Regions from separate parts of the Homo sapiens genome. Here region 1 is linked to region 2. The links come from fine-mapping of genetic effects on gene expression. Tissue or cell type: whole blood. Region 2 holds a variant in brackets; the other region holds the start of a gene. All regions are shown on one strand. Distances are between the middles of the regions.

Evidence for each region. PIP is the estimated chance that this variant, and not a neighbour inherited with it, causes the effect.
Region 1: RLN3 starts here. The variant in region 2 is fine-mapped to the expression of RLN3 in whole blood (TOPMed, PIP above 0.99).

What each region holds. Positions count from the first base shown.
Region 1 is chr19:14,026,805-14,029,546 of GRCh38, forward strand. It overlaps RLN3 (relaxin 3), which reads left to right and starts at 1,344. Exons shown (of 2, transcript NM_080864.4): 1 at 1,344-1,590. The coding sequence starts at 1,401. RefSeq lists an enhancer at 2,121-2,170.
Region 2 is chr19:13,965,218-13,967,717 of GRCh38, forward strand. It overlaps RFX1 (regulatory factor X1), which reads right to left. Exons shown (of 21, transcript NM_002918.5): 13 at 1,416-1,534; 14 at 1,204-1,313; 15 at 409-560; 16 at 232-329. Among named protein-coding and RNA genes, the nearest start is that of DCAF15, 14 kb to the left of the region's middle. The variant C/T (reference allele first, on the strand shown) is at 1,320.

The DNA of each region.
Region 1 (2,742 bases), 62 kb after region 2:
AGGTGGGAGGATCATTTGAACCCGGGAATTCAAGGCTGCAGTGAGCTATGTTGCCACCACTACAATCCAGCCTGGGCAACATAGCCAGACCCTGTCTCTGAAAAAAAGAAAAAAAAAAAAGTCTGGTTTCTGAACCAGCAGGATCAATGTCACCTGGGAACTGGTTGGAAATGCAGATTCTTAGATATGTTCCATACCTGTTGAGTCAGGAGCTCTGCAGGTAGGACACAAAGATATGTGTTTTGTTTGTTTGTTTTTGAGACAGAGTCTCACTCTGTTGCCCAGGCTGAAGTGCAGTGGCGCCATCTCAGCTCACTGCAACCTCCACCTCCCAGGTTCAAGCAATTCTCCTGCCTCAGCCTCCCAAGGAGCTGGGGCTACAGACATGAGCCACCACACCCGGCTAATTTTTTGTATTTTTAGTAGAGGCGGGGTTTCACCATGTTGGCCAGGCTGGTCTCGAACTCCGGACCTCAGGTAATCCTCCTGCCATGGCCTCCCAAAGTGCTGGGATTACAGGCGTGAGCCACCGCGCCTGGCCTGATTTCTGTTTTAACAAGCCTACCCAAAGATTCTGAAGCTCACTCACATTTGAGAACCATTACCCTGGGTTGTTGGGAGAATCAAATACATTACAGAGATATAAAATGCTTTGAGCAGCTGAGGGCTGTGGCTCATATCTGTAATCCCAGCACTTTGGGAGGCTGAGACAGGCGGATCACCTGAGGCCAGGAGTTCGAGACCAGCCTGGCCAACGTGGTAAAACCCCGTCTCTACTGAAAATACAAAAATTAGCCAGGTGTGGTGGTGGGCGCCTGTAATCCCAACTACTTGGGAGGCTGAGGCGGGAGAATTTCTTGAATCTGGGAGGCGGAGGTTGCAGTGAGCCAAGATTGTGCCATTGGGACTGTACCTCTAGCCTGGGTGACAGAGCGAGACTCCATCTAAACAAACAAACAAACAAATAAACAATAAAATGCTTACAGTAGTGTGCCTGGCCTCGTAGCACATACTGCACTGGGCGTTCACTGCTATTATGATCTTCGAAGAGGTCCAGGACCCTAACGTTGTGGGGATCTGGTTGTGTCACCTTACCCCGCCTTTTGGGATTATGCGTTTCTGGTCTCTGCAGGTTGGAGACCTTCTCGCCTCTCTGTCAATGATGTTGACAATAAGCTGGGCCACATCACCCTGTCCCTAGCGAAAGGTTATCACTTCGCTGGGGACATGAGAAAGGTCGGGTTGGGGGGGCCGTGCCTGTCTCCCCTCTGCTGGAGAAGATAAGGGAGGCACTCAGCTTTCTTCAGGCAGAGTGTGGGGGAGCCACGATGTATAAATGGGGGGCCAAGAGGCAGCAGAGACACTGGCCCACTCTCACGTTCAAAGCATCTCCGTCCAGCATGGCCAGGTACATGCTGCTGCTGCTCCTGGCGGTATGGGTGCTGACCGGGGAGCTGTGGCCGGGAGCTGAGGCCCGGGCAGCGCCTTACGGGGTCAGGCTTTGCGGCCGAGAATTCATCCGAGCAGTCATCTTCACCTGCGGGGGCTCCCGGTGGAGACGATCAGACATCCTGGCCCACGAGGCTATGGGTGAGGCTGGGGAGAGAGTGGATGTAGAAGGGGAACAGGTGGCTGGATGGGTCCCAGGAGCTAAGGACAGAGATAAGAGGAGGTTGCTGGAGGAGGAGGGTCCCTGTCCTGCCACATTCAGCCAGGGACACCTGCCCAGCCTTGAAACAAGGGCTCAGGAGTTAGCAGAGCTGCAGAGCTGGGATGGGGTGTTGCAAGCCATCCATGGGGGCTGGAAGTCTGAGGACAGGTGGGGGCGGGGAGCGTGCCATTTGCAAAGACAACACCGAAGTGTTTTCCAACCCTTTCCAGCAGGTAATGTGAAGGGTGTGGTATACACATAGCTGGGTTTGTCACCTAATGCATGACCTCTCCCCAGCAAGTTGGTTTTTCTTCCGTCTCTGAGTGTCTTTTTTTTGGAGATGTGGTCTCACTCCATTGCCCAGGCTTGAATGCAGTGGCCCAATCACTGCTCATTGCAGCCTCGACCTCCCAGGCTCAAGTGATTCTCCTGCCTCCGCCTCCAGAGTAGTTGAGACCACAGGCACCTGACACCATGCCTGGCTAGTTTTAAATTTTTTTTTTGTAGAAACAGGGGTCTCACTATGTTGCCTAGGCTGGTCTCGAACTCCTGGGCTCAAGTGATCCTCCCACCTCGGCCTCCCTAAGTGCTGAGATTAGAGTCTCTGAGTGTCTTTATCTTCAAATGGGAGACACAGTTCCTGAATCTTGCAGGATTAAGTGGTATGATTAAATCAAAACAGATTAGGGCAGAGTCTCAGCAGGGCAGCGGCACAATCTGGGATCCATCAGGAGAGTCAGAGGGAACAGAAGACCTAGCTTCATGAGGGGCAGGGACCTGGCAAATAGATATTCATGATGGTGAGAAGGAGGATAGGTATGAGCGTGGACATAGAAGACACACCACTTGGATTCAGATAGTAGCTCTACAATGTAATAGTTGTGTGTTCATGTGCTACTATTTTTTTTTTTTTTGAGACAGAATCTCATTCTGTTGCCCAGGCTGGAGTGCAGTGGTGCAATCTTGGCTCACTGTAACCTCCATCACCTGGGTTCAAGCGATTCTCGTGCCTCCAGCCTCCCAAGTAGCTGGGATTACAGATGTGTGCCACCATACCTCGCTAATCTTTTTATTTTTAGTAGAGACAGTTT
Region 2 (2,500 bases):
TGAGTACAGTAACACCACAAAGGGGGTTGCATTTCAGAAGTGGGTGCCTGAGGACACTGGTTTATAAAGACAATGCCCAGGGTGCTCCCCGAGGCGGAGAAGGTCTCCCCTTCCTCCACAGGCATCATCCCTGGAACAGGCGTGGGGACAAATTTTACCGCCCCTGGGGAGCAGAGGAGACGGAGGCCTAAGCCCCAGAGATAGGAGAAAGGGACCCCCTCACACTCTCACCTTCACCCGCAGCATCTCCTCGGGGATGTTGACCATGGCGTGGGTGAGCCAGCTCTCCAGGCTCTTGGCAAAGTTCCGGATCGCTTGGGTCAAGGCACCTGTGGGCGGTGGCGGGGGTCGGTCAGGGCAGGGCGGGTGTATGTGGGGCAGGGGATGCCGAGCAGGCCGAGCACTCACTGGGGATGGGCCGCAGCACGTCGGGAATGAGGATTTCCACCAGGCCCTGGTACAGCACGTTGTCACAGTGCTTGGTCCATTGGAGCACGGGCTCGAACTTGGAGAGGAGCACCAGGATGGCTTTGGGCAGTCGCTTCTCGGCCTCGTCATGTCTGCGGGCACCCACCCCACCCCGGGTCACTGGGGTACTCTATGGTCCTGCCCCCATCGTCAGAAGGGAACAGGTAGCCCCTGTCCCTGACCCAGGGTCACTGGGGTACTCTGTGGTTCTACCCCCAGCATCAGAAGGCACAGGTACCCCCTTACCCCCACTCCAGGGTCAGTGGGGCACTCTGTGTCTTGCCTCCAGTGCCAGAAGGCACAGGTATACCTTGTCCCCAACCCAGGGTCACTGGGGGCACTCTGTGGCCCTGCCCCCAGCGTCAGAAGGGCACAGGTACCCCCGTCCCCAGGTAAGTACCCCCTGCCTCCCAAAGATCCCCAGGGTCTGGTTGGCACAGGCCCGAGGGGTGGGACGGGATCCTATGCCCTACCCTCCATACAGGGGTCAAACAGATTCCAGAACCTGCCACTCCAGGGAGAAGATGGTGCCCTGCCCCATGCCTGGGCTTAGTCAGGCACTCCACCCCCGACTGTTGAGTGTCGGGTGGCTATACACACTCCACACAGCCAAGGATATGTGTACCCCACAAACTGCAGGGGACAAGCAGGTGCCCCAACCCTGGCCATCAAAATCACCTGCGGGTCATGCCCTCCTCCCCCCTCTCCCTCCCACAGTCGCCGGGCAGTACTCACACAGCCAGCGGTGGCGCCTCACTGGGCTGGCTGAGGTTGTACCTCCAGAAGGTCTTCCACAGCGTCTCCACCAGGGTGAACTGCAGGTTCACCATGACGTCGACAATGGCCTGTGG[C/T]AGAGGCGGATGCTCAGGGAGGCTGGGGGGCAGCATGGCCCTCCCATGCCCGTGGCTGCGTCCCCGTCCACTTGCCTGCCCACCTGGCCACCCTACCTCACAGTGTTCCCGGTACAGGACCTGGAAGGCTTTGATGTCCCCGGGCCCGACGCCCTCAGGCAGCACCTTGCCCTGGAGGTCGAGCTCTGTGAAGTCAGGGAGGCTCCGAGAGGCATCTAGGGGGCCGGGGGGAACCGTGAGGCCCTTCATCCCCCTTGCCTGCCCACCCTGGGGTCCTACTGACCTGTCCGTTTCCCATCAGACTGGGGTCCCCCATGTGCCGGTGAGACAACGCTAGGTGGGGTGAGCGCCTGGCCCGGGCCCAGGACGGGCCCAGGAGTGAGGGCCCACACTCCTCTGGCAGAGAGGACAGGAGGGTCTTGTGCCAGCCCTGCCTGTCTGCTGAGTAACAGCACTGCACCAACCCTCAGGACGTGGGCCTCTGAGTCCCGGCTGCAACACAGCACCCACCTGGCCGGGGAATGGGTAGGCACCCAGGGCACAGTCAGGACCACAGGACACTGCCCTGAGCCTAAGCACCCCAGGTTGGGGCTAGCCATGGACAGTCGCCCTAGGGATGCCCCTCGACTCTGCTAGAAGTATTGTTCCCCACCCTCCAAATGGGATGTCCCGGCCTCCAGGGCAGGTGGGGAAATGAGCTCCCACGTGCTCAGGATCAAGGATGTGTGGCTGGACTGTGGGTTCCAAGGGTTGCTTGTTTACTTAGCATCCTTTGGCCCTGTTTTCATGGATTGTTGTTTACTTTGTCTTTTTTTTTTTTTAAGAGATGGGGTCTTGCTATGTTGCCCAGGCTGGTCTCCAACTCCTGGACTCAAGCAATTCCTCCCACCTCGGCCTCCCAACGTGCTGGGATTACACACGTGAGCCACTGCACCCGGCCTTTTTTATTTTCCTGAGACAGAGTCTCACTCACTGTGTCGCCCAGGCTGCAGTGCAATGGCATGATCTTGACTCACTGCAACCTCCGCCTCCTGAGTTCAAGCAATTCTCCTGCCTCAGCCTCCTGAGTAGCTGGGATTACAGGCACCCGCCACCACACCCGGCTAATTTTGGTATTTTTAGTAGAGATGGGGATTCACCATGTTGACTAGGCTGGTCTCGAACTCTTGACCTCAAGCGAT